2 separate regions of the Homo sapiens genome follow, and region 2 is linked to region 1. The links come from fine-mapping of genetic effects on gene expression. Tissue or cell type: whole blood. Region 1 holds a variant in brackets; the other region holds the start of a gene. All regions are shown on one strand. Distances are from middle to middle.

The links. PIP is the estimated chance that this variant, and not a neighbour inherited with it, causes the effect.
Region 2: it holds the start of NOP56, and the variant in region 1 is fine-mapped to the expression of NOP56 in whole blood (INTERVAL, PIP above 0.99).

What each region holds. Positions count from the first base shown.
Region 1 is chr20:2,677,427-2,688,070 of GRCh38, reverse strand. All of the region lies in intron 2 of LOC105372507 (a long non-coding RNA gene), which reads left to right. Among named protein-coding and RNA genes, the nearest start is that of EBF4, 10 kb to the left of the region's middle. The variant G/T (reference allele first, on the strand shown) is at 5,185.
Region 2 is chr20:2,648,597-2,657,666 of GRCh38, reverse strand. NOP56 (NOP56 ribonucleoprotein) reads right to left here and starts at 5,035. Exons shown (of 12, transcript NM_006392.4): 1 at 5,004-5,035; 2 at 4,736-4,825; 3 at 4,274-4,388; 4 at 3,092-3,253; 5 at 2,720-2,918; 6 at 2,155-2,342; 7 at 1,921-2,072; 8 at 1,633-1,733; 9 at 1,118-1,266; 10 at 772-893; 11 at 449-586. The coding sequence starts at 5,006. It overlaps MIR1292 (microRNA 1292), which reads right to left and starts at 4,890; the gene lies at 4,825-4,890. SNORD110 (small nucleolar RNA, C/D box 110) reads right to left here and starts at 3,455; the gene lies at 3,381-3,455. It overlaps SNORA51 (small nucleolar RNA, H/ACA box 51), which reads right to left and starts at 2,600; the gene lies at 2,469-2,600. It also overlaps SNORD86, LOC105372505, SNORD56 and SNORD57. RefSeq lists enhancers at 1,690-2,207, 4,322-4,411 and a silencer at 4,912-5,551.

The DNA of each region.
Region 1 (10,644 bases):
GCGCGCATTAATTATGGCAATTCTCATAGTTCCATGAAGAAATCCAGAATGACAAGGGCCATCCAAGAAGGTGGTCTGGTAGGTATGCGCCAGCTCTGGGCCTTCCTCGCTGTTGATTCCTGAGGCCTCTTCAATTGCTTCAAGAAAACCCCACACCACAAGTATTAGTCTTGCCTTAGGATCCATTCCATCCCACATCTAGGCCCAGTTATTCAATCTTGAATAATAAAACAATAGGAGCTATCGTGGTGGACCCTTTGGCAGGAGAGTCGAGCTCCTATCCCCAGGCTCTGGGATCATTGGTCCTGGTTGTTCACACACCTGCCAATCACAAACCACTTCAAAGACACCCGGTCTCAATGCCCATTGAGGAAGAGGAAGGGGACCGTTTTCCCAGTGCAGCAAGCTATGCCCACTCCCTGCTATTTTGCAGAGCACGGCTGTTCCCTGCAGTCTCAAACCTAAAACTGCAGCAGCACCCAACACTATCCCTGACGGCTGCCCCTTAGCTACTCATAGGCAATGGCAACAATTTTGAAATATTATATACACACACACACACACACATATATATATATATTTACCGGTGGGGCAAGATCAAATTCATTTTCAAATTGTTGGGGAGGGCCAGGCGCGGTGGCTCACGCCTGTAATCCCAGCACTTTGGGAGGCCAAGGAGGGTGGATCATTTGAGGCCAGGAGATCGAGACCAGCCCAGCCAACATGGCAAAAACCCGCTTCTACTGAAAAAAACAAACAAAATGAAACAAAAACAATACAAAGAAAACAAAAATTATCCGGGTGCAGTGGCATGTGCCTCTAGTCCCAGCAACACAGGAGGCAGGGGCTCAGAACTACTATAGAGTACTTGAAATAAATAAGTAAAAGCTCAGCGCAGTTAAATTCCAAGTACATGGGGAGCAAACCTGAGTTCAAGTTACTTGGTTTAAATCAATGTCTCGCCACTGGCGTAAATTGAACTTCAGTACTATGGCTACATTGTCTTCATTCTCACTTGACCCAACATCCGGTTGGCAGTAGGTGCGTTTATTCTAGATCACGTTTGAGTCTCTTTTTTTTTTTTTTTTTTGAGATGGAGTCTCGCTCCCGTCGCGCAGGCTGGAGTGCAGTGGCACGAGCTAGGGTCACTGCAACCTCCACCTCCCGGGTTCAAGTGATTCTCCTTCCTCAGCCTCCCGAGTAGCTGGGATTATAGGAGTGGGCCACCACGCCTGGCTAATTTTTGTATTTTTAGTAGAGACGGGGTTTCGCCATGTTGGCCAGGCTGGTCCCCACCTTCTGACCTCAGGCGATCCACCCACCCTGGCCTCCCAAAGTGCTGGGATTACAGGCATGAGCCACCGCGCCTGCCTTGAGTTTCCTAAAATGCTGAACTTAAGTCAGAATCCCATCTCTGCCACTCACTGGATTTGTAAACTTATACTGAGCCTCAGTTTCCCATCAAATGAGAATGATAGCACACAGTTGTGAAGGTGAAATAAAATTAAACACGAGGAAAACAATTTTACAAACTTTTGAACACTATACCTGTGTAAGGTTGCTATTCTGGGCGTTCAGCACCTTGGGTTTTCCTGTGGAAGTGGGAAAGATATATAACTGTCTTTGTTGGAGACATTAAGCAGCTTATTTCATTTTCCAAATAGATACTAGGGACAAATATTTATACTTAAACTATTACATTAAAAGCAAAAAAGCAAGAGCATAATATTTAAAAAAAAAAAAAGCATGAGAAGTGCTTGAACCCAGGAGGAAGAGGCTGTTACAGTGAGCCAATCGTGCCACTGCACTCCAGCCTGCGCAACAGAATGAGACTGTCTCAAAAAACAAAAACAAAAACCCAAATTGCTGGGGAGGTAGGAGGAGGGTGGGGGAGTGGGGGTCTAGAAGAAAGGAAACTATTATCCTTGAGGTAGAGCAGGGTGCGGTAGGGGTAGGGGGTGAGGGGAATATAGGGTAGGCAGGAGGGAGCTATTTTTCCCCTTGTCCCGGGTGAAGTGGGGAGAGGACTTGGCAGAGGCTGATTCTCCATGAGGCTTAATCTTCAGGCTTTCATCTACACCGGCCCCTTCCAAGGACCCTCGAATATTCCTCGTGACAGGTTCACATGGTTACATATAATTGTGTATTCATAATTTTGTATTCTTCTTAAGGAGTTACTCCTCCAATTGTATAAGCTTCAGGTCTCCCAAAATCTAGATCTTCTGGTGGGACCTGGAGTTGGGTAGGAACAGTTCAGGTAAGAGATAATGAAGACCTAAACTAAAACAAGTTCAGTGGGGAGGGATGCGTTTCTTAATAGAAAAGTGCTATCATTTACTGGCCTGTAGCTCTTACAGATGAAGATGTTTGATTCTTTTCTTCTTTTCTGTATCCATAGTGCTGTGAATAGTCCTTGAAGGATAAATATTTGTGGATGAATACTTGTCTGGGAGGTAGAGGTCAGAAACTCATGATGGATTGCCTATGTGGGGTCCCACAGGGTGCCCCAAAGAGATGAGCTCCCAGCCGGGCGCGGTAGCTCATGCCTGTAATCCCACCACTTTGAGAGGCCAAGGCAGGTGGATCACCTGAGGTCAGCCTGGCCAACATGGTGAAACCCTGTTTCTACTAAAAATACAAAAAATTAGCTGGGTGTGGTGGCACGCACCTGTAGTTCCAGCTACTCAGGAGGCTGAGGCAGGAGAATTGCTTGAACCTGGGAAGTGAAAGTTGCAGTGAGCCCATATTGCGCCACTGCACTATAGCCTGGGTGACAGAGCGAGACTCTGTCTTAAAAAATAAAAATAAAAAGAGCCCCCCACACCTATCCCTTGTCACCTATCCCTACTCTGCTGTGTCACCCAGGCCTATTCCTGGTGTTGGGGAGAGAGGTCTTAAGCTCTCTCTTTCCTTAACCTTCAATGGCTGCTTGGCCTGGGGGAGCGAGGTCCTTGGAATGTGCCATGTGGTGGAAAGAACACCGGACTTGGGGTCTGGAGACCTGAACTCAGTAGGCAAGTTACTGACTTATTCTCAGCTGTAGTTACTTCATGGATAAGCCTGAGGTGCTGGTGGCCAAGTGATGCAACCGTAAGTGGTTAACAGCTTCCTCTTTTTTTTTTTTTTATTATACTTTAAGTTCTAGGGTACATGTGCACAACGTGCAGGTTTGTTACATATGTATACATGTGCCATGTTGGTGTGCTGCACCCATGAACTTGTCATTTACATTAGGTATATCTCCTAATGCTATCCCTCCCCCCACCCCACAACAGGCCCCGGGGTGTGATGTTCCCCTTCCTGTGTCCATGTGTTCTCATTGTTCAATTTCCACCTATGAGTGAGAACATGTGGTGTTTGGTTTTTTGTCCTTGCGATAGTTTGCTGAGAATGATGGTTTCCAGCTTCATCCATGTCCCTACAAAGGACATGAACTCATCATTTTTTTATGGCTGCATAGTATTCCATAGTGTATATATGCCACATTTTCTTAATCCAGTCTGTCATTGTTGGACATTTGGGTTGGTTCCAAGTCTTTGCTGTTGTGAATAGTGCCGCAATAAACATACCCATGCATATGTCTTTATAGCAGCATGATTTATATTCCTTTGGGTATATACCCAGTAATAGAATTGCTGGGTCAAATGGTATTTCTAGTTCTAGATCCCTGAGGAATTGCCACACTGACTTCCACAATGGTCGAACTAGTTGACAGTCCCACCAACAGTGTAAAAGTGTTCCTATTTCTCCACATCCTCTCCAGCATCTGTTGTTTCCTGACTTTTTAATGATTGCCATTCTAACTGGTGTGAGATAGTATCTCATTGTGGTTTTGATTTGCATTTCTCTAATGACCAGTGATGATGGGCATTTTTTCATGTGTCTGTTGGCTGCATAAATGTCTTCTTTTGAGAAGTGTCTGTTCATATCCTTTGCCCACTTTTTGATGGGGTTGTTTGTTTTTTTCTTGTAAATTTGTTGGAGTTCTTTGTAGATTCTGGATATTAGCCCTTTGTCAGATGAGTAGATTGCAAAAATCTTCTCCCATTCTGTAGGTTGCCTGTTCACTCTGATGGTAGTTTCTTTTGCTGTGCAGAAGCTCTTTAGTTTAATTAGATCCCAGTTGTCAATTTTGGCTTTTGTTGCCATTGCTTTTGATGTTTTAGACATGAAGTCCTTGCCCATGCCTATGTCCTGAATGGTATTGCCTAGGTTTTCTTCTAGGGTTTTTATGGTTTTAGGTCTAACATTTAAGTCTTTAATCCATCTTAAATTAATTTTTGTATAAGGTATAAGGAAGGGGTCCAGTTTCAGCTTTCTACCTATGGCTAGCCAGTTTTCCTAGCACCATTTATTAAATAGGGAATCCTTTCCCCATTTCTTGTTTTTGTCAGGTTTGTCAAAGATCAGATAGTTGTAGATGTGTGGCATTATTTCTGAGGGCTCTGTTCTGTTCCATTGGTCTATATCTCTGTTTTGGTACCAAATCAATAAACATAATCCAGCATATAAACAGAACCAACGACAAAACCACATGATTATCTGAATAGATGCAGAAAAGGCTTTTGACAAAATTCAACAACTCTTCATGCTAAAAACTCTCAATAAATTAGGTATTGATGGGACGTATCTCAAAATAATGAGCTATTTATGACAAACCCACAGCCAATATCATACTGAATGGACAAAAACTGGAAGCATTCCCTCTGAAAACTGGCACAAGACAGGGATGCCCTCTCTCACCACTCCTATTCAACATAGTATTGGAAGTTCTGGCCAGGGCAATCAGGCAGGAGAAGGAAATAAACGGTATTCAATTAGGAAAAGAGGAAGTCAAATTGTCCCTGTTTGCAGATGACATGATTGTATATCTAGAAAACCCCATCGTCTCAGCCCAAAATCTCCTTAAGCTGATAAGCAACTTCAGCAAAGTCTCAGGATACAAAATCAATGTGCAAAAATCACAAGCATTCTTATGCACCAATAAGAGACAAACAGAGCCAAATCATGAGTGAACTCCCATTCACTACTGCTTCAAAGAGAATAAAATACCTAGGAATCCAACTTACAAGAGATGTGAATGACCTCTTCAAGGAGAACTACAAACCACTGCTCAACGAAATAAAAGAGGATACAAACAAATGGAAGAACATTCCATGCTCATGGATAGGAAGAATCAATATC[G/T]TGAAAATGGCCATACTGCCCAAGGTAATTTATAGATTCAATGCCATCCCCATCAAGCTACCAATGACTTTCTTCACAGAATTGGAAAAAACTACTTTAAAGTTCATATGGAACCAAAAAAGAGCCTGCATTGCCAAGTCAATCTTAAGCCAAAAGAACAAAGCTGGAGGCATCACGCTACCTGACTTCAAACTATACTACAAGGCTACAGTAACCAAAACAGCGTGATACTGGTAACAGCCTCCTCTTAAAAAATAAACTTGCTTTGTAGCATTTGCTGAATTTGTGGTGACTACACATTCCTACCATGGCTGATTTCAAACTACTAATGTGATATCACTGAACATGTTAGGAGAGACACACCATAGCCTCTTCAGAGCCTGAGCAATCCGATTCCAGCACACTCCTGTGTGGGTCTCAAGGACTAGGGTCTTACTTTATTTGAACAAAATGTTGGATGACGGACTCCCATATTCTGTGCCAAGCTGTATATGGGAAATTCTGTCTTCTTCCTCTTCCTCTTCTTCTTCTTCTTCTTCTTCTTCTTCTTCTTCTTCTTCTTCTTCTTCTTCTTCTTCTTCCTCTTCTTCCTCTTCTTCTTCCTCTTCTTCCTCTTCTTCTTCCTCTTCTTCTTCCTCTTCTTCTTCCTCTTCTTCTTCTTCCTCTTCCTCTTCTTCTTCTTCTTTTCTTCCCCTTCTTCTTCCCCTTCTTCTCCTTCTTCCCCTTCTTCCCCTTCATCCGCTTCTTCCCCTTCGTCCCCTTCTTCCCCTCTCTTCTTCTTTCTTCTTCTTCTCCTTCTCCTTCTCCCTTCTTCTCCCTTCTTTCTTCCTTTTTTTTTTTTCAAATGCAGAGTCTCACTCTGTTTGCCCAGACTGGAGTGCAGTGGCTCGATTTTGGCTCACTGCAGCCTGGACCTCTGGGCTCAAGCGATCCTCCTGCCTCAGCCTCCTGAGTAGCTTGGACTACAGGGGTGTACCATCACACCTGGCTGATTTTCTAAAAAAATTTTTATAGGCCAGGAGCGGTGGCTCATGCCTGTAATCCCAGCACTTTGGGAAGCCGAAGCAGGTGGATCCTCTGAGGTGAGGAGTTCAAGACCAGCCTGGCCAACATGGTGAAACCCTGTCTTTAAAAATACAAAAAAATTACCTGGGGTGGTGGTGGGCACCTGTAATCCCAGCTACTTGGGAGGCCGAGGCAGGAGAATCACTTGAACCTGGGAGGCGGAGGTTGCAGTGAACCAAGATCGCATAATTCTGCTCCAGCCTAGGCAACAAGAGCAAAACTCCATCTCGAAAAAAAAACAAAACAGTTTTTTTTGTAGTGACAGGGTCTTGCCAAGTTGCCCAAGTTGGTTTCAAGCTCGTGGGCTCAAATAATCCCCCTGCGCTGGCCTCCCAAAGTGCTGAGATTATAGGCATGAGCCATTGCAGCCAGCCCAGCTGTTCTTTTTGCTGGTAAGATCATTTTATGTGGGCAAGATGTATGTGGATGATCACTTTGGCCCAATATCCATCTTTGTTTTTAATTAAAAAATTATTTGCCTTTTTAAAATTATGACATAATTGACAGCAAAGTACCCAGATATTACATGCGCATGTTGGTAAATTTTTACACACATATACACCCATATAACCAACCATTCAGATTAAGATACAGGGCATTTTCAACATCCCCAAATCCTCTCTGGTGCCTACTCCCAGTGAACACTTGCCGCTCAAGAGGTAACCCCCTCCTGATTCCTTGCACCATAAACTAGTTTTTCTCATTCTTGAAGTTCATGTAAATGACATCATGCATTATGTAGTTTTTAAATATCTGGCTTTCACTCATCATTACCTGTGAGATTTATCCACGTTGTTGTGTATAAGAGTGTAATTCATTTGTTTTCATTCCTAGGTAGTATTCCTAGCACAAACTTTCAATAGTTTTAACTTTTTTTGTTGTTGTTGTTGTTGAGATGGAGTCTCGCTCTGTCGCCCAGGCTGGAGTGCAGTGGCGCGAACTCAGCTCACTGCAAGCTCCGCCTCCCAGGTTCACGGCAGTCTCCTCTCTCAGCCTCCTGAGTAAGTGGGACTACAGGCGCCCGCCACAATGTCTGGCTAATTTTTGTATTTTTAGGAGGGACGGGGTTTCACCATGTTAGCCAGGATGGTCTCGATCTCCTGACCTCGTGATCCACCCGCCTCGGCCTCCCAAAGTGCTGGGATTACAGGCGTGAGCCACCGCGCCCAGCCAGTTCTAACTTATTAAAACTTTTTTATGCTTCTCATGCCTGCTTTTGTCTCTCAACTCTGAAACTGTGGATCCCACTGGCCACATACTCAGTCCCATAATGCTCTATTTCTCCTTGGCCCTGACCTATCCTCTACCACTTCACCTCCAACATCTGCCATGCCCTTCAGAATCCCATCTGTAAGGCAGTGGCTTACAGATGCAAGCACTTCTGGAGGCCAAGGCAGGCAAATCGCTTGAGCTCAGGAGTTTTAGACCAGCCTGGCCAAATGGTGAAACTCTGTTGCTCCAACAAATTAGCCAGGCCTGGTGATACATGCCTGCAGTCCCAGCTACTCGGGAGGTTGAGGTCAAAAAAAAAAAAAAAAAAGAATCCCCTCTGCAAAATTAACCAACTTCCTCATATTTTCAACATTTCTTTTAAAACTTTCTCTCACCACCAGCCTTAACTGAAACCTGAATGACACCTGTTATGGAATGAATGTTTGTCTCCCTTAAATGCATATGTTGAAATCCTAACCCCCTAATTAACTGTATTTGGAGATAAAGGCTATGAGGAGGCCGGGCGTGGTGGCTTACACCTATAATCCCAACACTTTGGGAGGCTGAGGCGGGCAGATCATGAGGCCAGGAGATTGAGACCATCCTGGCTAACACAGTGAAACCCTGTCTCTACTATAAATACAAAAAATTAGCCGGGCGTGGTGGCGGGCACCTGTAGTCCCAGCTACTTAGGAGGCTGAGGCAGGAGAATCACTTGAACCTGGGAGGCGGAGGTTGCAGTGAGCCGAGATCACGCCACTGCACTCCAGCCTGGTGACAGAGCGAGACTGTCTCAAAAAAAAAAAAAAAAAAAAAAAAAAAAAAAAAAAAGGCTATGAGGAGGTGATAAAGGCTGAAATGATAAAGGTCATAAGGGTGGATCCCTATCCGATAGGTCTAGTGCCCTTATGTGAAGAGGAAGGGACACTAAAACTCTCAATCTCCACTATGTGAGGACACAATGAGAAAGTGACCATGTGCAAGCCAGGAAGACAGCCCTCACCAGGACCCAAATCAACTGGTACCTTGATCTGCGACTTCCCAGCCTCCAGAACTCTGAGAAAATAAATTTCTGTTGTTGAAGCCACCCAGTCTATGGCGTTTTGTGATGGTAACCTGAGCCAACTAAGACAACATCCAAGGATGCCTTTTTGCCTAAGGCATTCTCTAGCAGTTACTGTTTATTCTCTTTCACTTTGCTACATATAAATATCTTGGATTGTATTTTGCCCTCCTTTCAAGATAAGTTACTTTGTTACTGTTTCATGAATGCTGGCAGAAGACAGGAGATTCCTAGATTAGAGACAAAGCAAAGCATATTAACACAGCATAGCAAGTAGCAAAAGCACCCTGTTTGTATCAGCTCCCCTTGTTCCCTAAGTTCCACAAGGAAAATGGGAAGGAGCCTTATGGATTCTGTGCATGCACTGGGTTTGTGCCCCACGTGAGGAACATTGAGCCTGGGGAACCCCCTCTTTCATAGACAGCAGTAAGCAAGTCTGCTCTTTGTCCTGGAGAGAGATATTAACCTCATTCCTCAAGGTGGCTTACTGCAATGCACGACCCTGAGAAACAGCCCAGGAAAGAGGGGTCAGGGCCTTGTAGTCTTGGCATACTCAGTAAAAATGTGCTGGGACGTTCAGGGCCTCTGACAGCTTTCCTCTCCCAATAATTGACCTTACACATTCTTGGCCAAAGTGGAATATTCCCATGAGTATACCACTCCATCTGCCACTCCAATCAATCTGATCACCCTAGACTGGGACCAAATTTGCTCAATTTGTCTCATACAGAATTTACTACCAATAGAACCTCAAGCAAGATGAGGCCAACCAACAGTATTGGCTTCAACAATGCCACCCGGCGTCTCAGACTCAGTCACCTGTGAATAAGTCTCAAGGGGATCAGTAGGCCTTAGTAGGCCAGGATACAGTCTAAGGCCAGGTCATTATCCATTACAACCTGCATAAGTGAGTTCTAGACTAATCTACTGGTCCTCAATGTCATCGCCAGTAATTATATGAAGTGATAGATGGGCCAAAAGCAACCCTCATCCCTAATGGAGAGACATCACATGGCCCACATACAAACATACACCCAACAGGTTACGTGTTACTTGAATTCAGAATTTGTTGTTGATTCTGATTTGGATTATCATTACACTGGTTTGGTTTAGCCACATGGATGGTGTCACCTAACGCTTGCATCCTCAGACACCATACATGAACCAAAGCCACGTGGGTGACAGGAAAAGTGCCTGTGTTTGTACCAATCAGACAAACAAGGTTGTGCTGGATGGTGTGTTTGTGCATGTATGGGGTAAGGGGAGGTTCCATATTTGGGAGCTGCCATTGATGGCTGGCAAAGGCCACAACTGAATAGCCAGGACTGGCCACCTCCTTATGAATTCCCCTGTTTTCATAGCATGCAGGCAGCATGATAAATCCAGAAAGGGTAAGACTGTCAGCTGCAGCTGCTGCTCAACTCAGATGAACGAGATGATGGTTTTTCTAGGTTTCAATGCTGGATCTAGGGGACAAAGAGCACATTGATCATTCTCCACTGTTTGCACCTGCTGGCATCTAAGGTGTCTTCTCGCAGGCTTCCTGGCTATGAAAGCAGCATATCTCATTCCAGTAGCCATAACTTCATCATTTCTCCGATCTTTCCCTACTCATACCCAGACCTTTTGTCTGCTAGAGCGAGGCGTGAGTGAGACAAGGACATTTTTACAAAATTTACAGACATCCATTGTATCTCGCACCTTGGCCTATATGAGCCAGTGTGAGAGAACTTGGCAAGGAATGTACTCAACCAGTGTACTCAATTTGGCAAGCAATTGTATTCAATGAGTACACTGATCTGGGATCAGGTTAATCTGTCAAGAGAATCCAAGTGGCTAAACCAGAATTAGAGATAAGTTTGAATCCCCTAAGTCCCCTTTTGCCGGGCTGACACCTGGAGGGTGCACCAAGCAGGCTGGTGTGGGGTTGCTGTTGGGTTAGGGGTGGGAGAGGAAAGAAAAAAGAAGCACCATGCTCCCAACTTTTCAGAATAGATCTATATAACCCTCCACCTGTTTTCATCCTGATCAGTACCCAGGAAGTGGCTGAAAGGAGATGATCTTTGGAGATAGCTGCATTCAGTGATCATACTGCCTCGCTGAAGTATGTGGCCCAGAAG
Region 2 (9,070 bases), 30 kb after region 1:
GCCAAGTTCCAGACAGGGCCCTGAAACACTGTTTAAGAAACTGGGTGCTAAATGAAAATCTCAGGGAGAATGATTGTAGCTTAGCACATTGGGGACCTCCCTGCCCCCATCCCCACTGTGAAACACGACCACCTCCGGACACACGTCTGATAATAAGCAGAGCAGGAATTTACACTACCCCAGGTTGAGGACTCCTGGGAGGCAGCCGAGGACAGAACACACATGCCCAGGGAACGGGTGTGAGCTACAACCAGCTCTCTGGGCTCTTGAGCAAGTTCAGCACCTATCTCCTTCCTATAGAATCAAGAGGTAGTTTTAGATGTTTCAGGTCCTTGTTTCAGTCCAAAAGCCTGGACTCAAGACCACAGCTTGATGCAGCATATCCTTTGTTCTGCTGTTGAAAATCCTACAACCTAGGATCTCTGCCAGGGCCGTGCTGCCTACTGACCTCACACTCCTCTGGAGTACTACTGCTGTTTTCTGAAGACGCGAGGGCAAGTGCAGCCAGCCGTTTCTTTTCCTTCTTTAAGCGTTTCTTCTCCTGTTTCTCCAGCTTCCTAGTAATCTCAGCAGCCGCTTCCTCTGCCTGGTCAAAGAAAAGTGCTAAAAGGGCCTGAAGACTTCTGGTGCTCTGAGGACTCCTTTCTGGCTTTATTGGATCAGGCTCATTAAATCAGTTTTTTTGCCTCCATTCTACAAGGTCAGGCTCAGACAGTTCATCACCTCCAACAGCTAGCTATGCCACTCCACACCCAGCAAAGCCCAACTGACCTGAACCATTGCTTCCTTCATGACATCCAGATTCTTTCGTGGTATCTCTCCAGTCTCATAGAAGGACAGTCGCTCTTCAACTTGTTCTCGAAGCTTCTCCCCGAATACACTCGTGGGCACCTCTGGATGTGTGTGGGTGACAAAGCCTGTCAGCCCAAAGAGAGAAACTACCCCAACCCTGTGTTCCCTCTACCCTCAGCTTCACTCAGACCCAGAGTCTCAACACTCACTAGGTGAACTGCTGTTGACGAAAAATATTGCCATCATTGTGGAAGCTATGGTTGCAAGCCTCCCCACCCAGCCACCCAGCCCCTTCTCACACCTGCCAACGCCCCCCCACCCATACCAGAGAAGCAATCGATTCGTGAGGCAATACTGCATTTGTTTGCCAGGTATCGGGAGATGCGGCCTTTGTTCTTGGCAGCTGCTCGGCCAATGAAGGTGGAGTGGAAAATGAGTCCATATTTTGGAGTGTTACCCCTTGTCTTCAGGGCTCTGAGAGAATATTCAGTGGAGAGTTTAAGATCAGAAATTTCAACCCCATTAGCCAAGGCAGCTCAGCTCCTCCCCTCCTCTCACCCCGAAGTCCTGAGTGAGCCTCAGGCCAGATTGGATCTCTACCCCAATGCATGCCAACCCATAGCTCCCAGAGGCAGAGGGAAGGCATCCAATGTCGCTGACCTGGAAACTTGGTCCCTTTGCTGGGCCCTGGGAATCACTCAGACACCAGGACTGGCCATCACCCCCATAGCAGAGGCCTGTATAGGTCAGGGAGCCCTGGTCAGCCATCACCGTGATCCCCCAACAAGCAGTGGGCACCAGAAGTGGCACCTGATTGTGGGCAGGTGCCCTCACTGGTACCTGAACAGGGCCTTTTCAGCCCCAAGGATCTGCACTGTGGATGCTGGATACTTGGCCAGGTTGGTGAGGCTGCCAGCATGTGCGATGAGACGTGCACCTACCTGGAGAGAGAGTCAAGGAAGCAGTCAGAGAAATGAACTGCTGACCTGCCCAGTTGCACGACAGCCCTGCTCCCCACCTCCCCATCAAGCACAACTAGGGAAGACATGGTGGGTCACGAAATACAGCAGTGCAGGTGCACATGGCAACAGTCCTTATTCTCCCATTTTTGAGTCCCCTGTGACGCACCGCTTCCCCAATTAGGGCTGACAGGCTGGGGGCTACTTGGCTCATCTTGGAGCGCAGGTAAGTGTGTAGGCTCTGGCGGTATTCAGATAAAGACACCACACGACTGGAGAAGCTCTCGATGTTTATCAAGTCAATGGCAGATATGTCCATGCCTAGGAAAAACCAAGTGTGAATGCAAGAGGCCAGCTATTTAGAGCCCCATACCTTATGCAGGTTGCCAGGCTCTGCACTGACCCATGGAGGACCGTGAGGCATCCAGAATAGCCTTAGCCTTGGCCCCATCCATTGTCAGCTCCTCCAGCTTCTCCAGCTTGTCCTCATTCAGTTCCCTTCGGTTTCCAATAAACTGGGCAAGACGGCAGTATGTGGCATTGTCGTTGATGATCTTCACCAGCTCCGGAAAGTGATACCCGTACCACTCCCTGCAAAGAGCCACAGTCACTCCCTGGCCCAGCTGCTTCATCAAAAACCATAGAGCTACAGCCTTGCCTTCTCCACACCTACTCTGCCTGGAGGAAATGGGACAAAGATCCAAATCTTCCTCAATTCTATGTTCCCCCATTCACAATACAGACCAGGCACAGGGCCTGAGCTGAGGTGTATATGGGGTAGGTTTACTCTACCTCCTCTTTCTATACAGTCAGTGTAAGAACACAGCCTGTGGTAAGCACCAGGAGGCCTACACCCAGCCCCAGCCCACATGGTTCTACCCACAGGATGGTCAGTCCTCATCAAGACTCAAAATTAACTGAACTACAGACCAAAGGCTCCAGTATTATGGGTGGCCCCTGCACTTTACCTGACACGCATAGAGAAGGTATTGATGTCCTTATCCAGCTGGTCCAGGAGGCTAATGGACTGGATGATCATATTGTCCACCCGGTTCACATTAAACTTAACTTTGGCACGGGAATAGCTGTGTCCCAGCCCCAGCTGTGCTTTACAAGCTGACAGATCGGTCAGACCCTTCACCAGATTGTGGAAGTGCAGACGAACTCCTAAGAAGAGGGCAAGACGGTGAGCAACAAGGGGCTCTGAGCTAGCTCCCGCACCCACGGGCACCAGCCCAGCCTGAAGGCCTTCCCAGAAATCACAACAAGCAACCAAGTTTCCAGAACCTCCTCCCCCAAAATGTCCAGGATAACAGGAATATAACAGATGATGGTCTCACCTCGCAGGATCTCAGCTATGACTCCTCCAGTCTGGCAGTTGTACCCTAACTCCTCCTGTATTGCGGCACCAATCTTGGGATCCCCAACTCCCAAGAGTACTTTCTTCTTTTTGGACGGCAGGTGGGTCTCCAAGAGCAGGCGGAGGTCCTCATGAACAACCCCTCAGGGGAAAGAACACAGTTCCCACTAACAGGCTGAAGGACGATCAACTCTAACATCCCTCAGCTGACTACCCTGGTCCCACCGAGCACGCTGGGATGGCATACCTAGATCCCTCCCCATCAGGCATTGCTCAGAGACATGGAGACATCAGTGATTGCACTCAGGGGATTGACAGATTTGATTCGCAAGTCATCACTGCAAAGCCTGGCCCAGCCATGGGAACAACTGCATTCAGGTCTGATAGCACAAGTGGGCAATAAATAATAGCTTGTAACACACCCTCGAGTATTTCGTAGAATTTGCCTTCTGGAACCAAACCTTTTTTTCTCAGCCTGTGTTTACCCAACTGCCCTTTCCAATCGAACAGAAAGCAGAGAACCAGACACTTGATTGTGTTTAGGCAAAACCTCAGGCACAAGTAGGTGTTAAGCCGACCCCCTTTAAGAAACCCCCCTTTGTCGGCCGGGCACCGTCGCTCGCGCCTGCAACCTCAGCACCTTGGGAGGTCGAGGCGGGCGGATCACGAGGTCAGGAGATGGAGACTAGCCTGGCCAACATGGTGAAACCCCGTCTCTACCAAAAATACAAAATTAGCCGGGTGTGGTGGCTGGCACAGGCCTGTAATCCCAGTTACTCGGGAGGCTGAGGCAGGAGAATCGCCTGAACCAGGGAGGCAGAGGTTGCAGTGAGCCCAGATCTTGCCACTGCACTCCAGCCTGGGGGACAGACTCCATCTCAAAAAAAATAAAAATAAAAAATAGTTTGTCACTACAGTGCCCACAAGGAAACGTTAACACACATTCCACATCGTCTGCTTAAACAGTTTGGTCTAGCACAGTTCCCAGACCTTGAGCTCTGTGAAGACAATTATTTCAAATTACACATTGTATGGCTCAAATACTGCCTCACGCCTATCAGACTCAGAGCCAGCCAAGGACGGCAAATACTATCACAAGCTGCCCGAGAGGATACCGAAAGGAACCACATCTCTCTGTGACACTTGGCGGTGGCCGACTTACCTTCAGACACGGCGTTGGCATTTTCCAAGGCAACCTGGGATGAGGCAAAGGGACAAAAGGCCACCAGACGAACGATGCTGTGGAATTTGCCCAGGTTGAGCACAGACTCCTCCACCTGGGGGGAGAAAGAGGCTAAGTGGTTTCCTTCCCTCCCTCCTGCCTCTGCGGCGCAGTCAAGCAGCGGTTCTCAGCCTTGGAAGCTCTTAAAATATGCTGATACCTGGGCCCCACATCCCAGCTTCTGCTTTAATCGTTCGGGGGCGGCGTCCGGGAGGCTTATTTCTAATTGCTAGAGCGATTCTACCCATGGGTCAAGGTAAAGACCCCCGGATCTAGAGCTTTCCAGGCCCGTCCCCCCGCCCCGAACCGCTCGGCCGGCCACGTGGGAGCGCGCTGTGCATGCTGGGACCCGCGCGATGAGGGTCTGCGGGGCCGCCAAAGGAGCCCACGGATCTCACCCACCTGCGGCTGCAGCAGACTGATCTCCTCCACTTCCTTCAGCGCCAGCAGCGCGTAGCCGACCGCGTGCTCAAACAGCACGTGCAACAGCACCTGGAACGGGAGCCGGGGCGCGAGCGTCAACGCAACCTCAGCGTCTGCCGGAACCCGTTCCCAGGGCAGGCGCAGGCGCAGGCGCAGGCCCAGGCCCAGGCCCAGGCCCTGTCTGCGGCCCGAACGCAGGCCGAAACCCCCACCGTCGCGTCGCCCGCGCCCCGCAACCACTCCTCACCATGGCGCCAGCTCCCGGGTTCGGCTCGCAATGCGGCTAGCGCGCTCCGGCGCGCGGAACCAGGCTCCAGAGGCCACGCCCCCGCCCCCCCGACCAATCGGAGGCCGGGGACGACACCATCTCCGGCCTTTGGAGGGGCCGCCCAGGGTGGTATCGCCCGGAGCGCGGGCTGGGTGGTGCCGAGCGCGGGCGAGCGGGCCTTTTCCGGCCTCTGCAGCTGCGCGGGCGGGCGTGGTTGCCGGGGACGCGCGGCCCCCGGTCGGGCACTGCAGGCGGCGAAACGACTTGGGAAGGCCCTTTCGGGGTAATAGTCCGGTTCCTGATGTTCTTGTCATATGAGTTACGGGCAGCAGAGCTGGGTGAAGTCGGGGCGGGAGGTCCGCGTGGGGCGCGGCGTCCATCCCAGACAGAGACCGCTGCCTAGCCGGCTTCCCGCTTCGTCCGTGGCCTCGGGCCCCAGACCCTGCGCCCCACGTCCCCGGGACCCAGGCGTTCCCGTCCCCTACTCGGGGACGAGCCTCCCCGGCGCCGGGTGGGCGGTGCATCCTTTCCTCCCACCCGTAACGGGAGCGGTGCCTGGCGCGCTCTGGCGCAGACCCTGCTGGGAATGTAGCTCGCGCAGTTTTCTTCGTACTATTAATTTATTTCTTTTTTTTGTTTTTGGTTTTTTTTTTTTAAATGACTGTAGCAGGCAGTAACGTGCGAAAGAAAGACGCTCCAGCGTCTTCCTAGGCCAGTTTCTTGTTGCTGTGCTGCACGGGACCCAGCTCCTTTTGCTGGGCCACGTGTTGCTCCTCCGCTTGGGCGGCCCTGAATTCTGGGCGCTGGTGATCGCTGAGTGAATCGCAGCTGCTTCCCTGTCCTTGAGGGCGTCTTTTGGGCACTCAGGCGACTCTTTAGAAATGAGTTTTGCTTTAATAATTAATATTAACGTTATAAATCCAAAACCTAGTTATACTTAAGTAGCGTATCCCCTGGTATGTTTTAAAGAGTCATTCGAAGGGGATTTTTAAAAATAATGTATAGCTATAAACTGCATTTATACATTTAATTGTTATTTTGTTAAGCGATTGAGTTACTTGACAAAATCCAAGTACATAGTTCACTCACAAATCTAATATGTCAAACCTAAATGTGGTTGGTAAATCTTACTCTCATAATTTCAATATGGTTTACAGATGTGGTTGAATTCTGTTACACATGTCTACTTACGAGTCAGAATCGTTATTCCATTTAATATTTTAAAATGGAATTGCCAAGTTAATCCATACATTAGCATGTTAAATTATTTTAACCGTCGTGAATACATCAAAATAGACGATTCCAAAATGTAATGGAAAATACTAATGCTAATACTTCAATTTACTTCATTATTTCTGCCCTTAATCCTGAATCTTCCTGGAGTTACAGGTGCTTATCCACTAAACCAGGGGTTTTCAAGCAAGAAGTCAGAATGCATTAATGGACAGCATTTAAAAAAATAGGATTGGGTGGGCTATAATCCAGCACTTTAGGAGGCCGAGGCAGGCGGATCACTTAAGATCAGGAGTTCGAGACCAGCCTGGCCAACATGGTGAAACCCCGTCTCTACCAAAAAATAAAAAAATTAGCTGGACGTGGTGGAGCATGTCTGTAATCCCAGCTACTCGGGAGGCTGAGGAAGGAGAATCGCTTGAACCCGGGAGGCAGAGGCTGCACTCTAGCCTGGGCAACAGAGCAAGGCTCTGTCAAAAAAAAAAAAAAAAAAAAAAAAAAGAAAAAGGATTAAAGCGAATAGAAATAAGAGTGTGTTGCTTAGAGTAAGGTGCTGTTCATTGTAAAACTTTTGTCTCAGCTCTACATACATATATAGAAATATGTACACAAATATTTTTCATATATACATATATATGTAACTATATGAACACACTTTTGTGTGTTAAATCAGAATATAAAAAACCTGAGGGTCAATCAATGAGCCAAAAGGTAACCAGTCGTACTCTGGAAAAATTTGGGTCCTCTGGTTACAAAGGAGCTGTCATGAAGTAGTTTGCTGACTTACAGAGATGGCTGAAGAAAAGTGCTTCTGCTGGTGAGATAACCAATGCTTGTGATCAGATATGGATGTGGTATGAACATTAAAAGGTTTCCTTCGGTTTTCTCATCTCCATCCCTTCAATAAAATATCTCACCCTGATACTTGTAGTCTGACTCTAGTGGGATAACACAGGACTCCTGTTATCCTTGACACTGTTATCCAGTTATCCAGGGGGCATCTCTGCAACCTGTGGTGGAGTAGACCATCTTTGCCTTCCGCTTGGACTGTTTGCTGGGTGCACTGCTCCTGTCTAGGCTCAGGTCTTCACCACCAAAGTAGACTTTTTACAAAACCTTTGGTTTCCCCTTCAAGGCACTTTCTACTGCCAGAATGATCTTTCTAAGGCAGAATATCCAACCAGGTGCAATTTGTGGGTGCTTACAGGGTCATGAAATACCACCTATGGTAGTTAGTTTCCACAAATGGCCAAGATAGACGTGTGGGTGAAGCCATCCTGTGTGTCCCAGCCCCTGTCACCATCTCAGTGCAGCCATGTAAGGCCCCAAACAAGACCAGCAGAACCACCATCTGCATCTTGTCTACCCTGATTGTGACAAATAGTACATTGCGGTTTTCAGCCACTAAATGTAAGGGTGAGTTGTTAAGCAGCAGTAAATTTGAATCGGTCAGCTCACGTGGGTTCAAGCCCCAGCTCTGCCAGTACTTACAATGTGATCTTAATCACTGAATCTTCCTGAGCTTTCATTTCCTTTGCAGAATGAAGGTTGGGGTTTCATTCATCCCTTTAACAAACATTTATTGAAGATCTCCTGTGGGCCAGGTGTGACAATGGTGTACCTGGCATGTAGTGGGAGCTCAAAAAATATTAGTGGTCTTTCATCTTGCTCTTTTGTCCTTTAATTAATAAATAGCACAACAAAATGTTTTATCACCTATTTTCAGTTGAGTCTCAGTTCTCTGCAGTTATCACCTTGCATAGAAGCTACTGAAACCTCATTTTTTTCTTTTTTGGGACAGGGTCTCCTGTAGCCCAGGTTGGAATGCAGTGGCACAATCTTTGCTCATTGCAACCTTGATTTCCTGGGCTCAAGTGATCATCCTGCCTCAGCCTCCCAAGTAGCTGGGACTACTGGTGTACACCCCCATGCCTGACTAATTTTTTTGTAGAGATAGGGTTTTGCCATGTTGCCCAGGCTGATCTCAAACTCCTGGGCTTGAGCTATCCTGCTCTCCTCTGCCTCCCCAAATGCTGGGATTACAGGTGTGTGCCACCACACCCAGCTAATTTTTGTATTATTGGTAGAGACGGGGTTTTACCATGTTGGCCAGGCTGGTCTCGAACTCCTGACCTCAGGTGATCCACCTGCCTCGGTCTCTCAAAGTATCGGGATTACAGGTGTGAGCCACTGTGCCTGGCCAGGATCTTATTTTTTATGGCTGAATAGTACTCCATTGTGTATACATACCACGTTTTCTTTTCTTTTTTTTTTTGAGATGGAGTCTCGCTCTGTTGCCCAGGCTGGAGTGCAGTGGCGTGATCTCGGCTCACTGCAAGCTCCACTTCCTGGTTCAGCCTTCTGAGTAGCTGGGATTACAGGCGTCTGGCACCACACCTGGCTAATTTTTGTATTTTTATTTTATTTTATTTTATTTTATTATTATTATTATTATTATTATTATTATTATTATTATTATTTGAGACGGAGTCTCGCCCTGTCGCCCAGGCTGGAGTGCAGTGGCGCAATCTTGGCTCACTGCAAGCTCCGCCTCCCAGGTTCACGCCATTCTCCTGCCTCAGCCTCCCGAGTAGCTGAGACTACAGGCGACCGCCACCGCATCCGGCTAATTTTTTGTATTTTTAGTAGAGATGGGGTTTCTCCGTGTTAGCCAGGATGGTCTCAATCTCCTGACCTTGTGATCCGCCCGCCTTGGCCTCCCTAAGTGTTGGGATTACAGGCGTGAGCCACCACGTCTGGCTAATTTTTGCATTTTTAGTAGAGAGAGGTTTCACCATGTTGGCCAGGCTGGT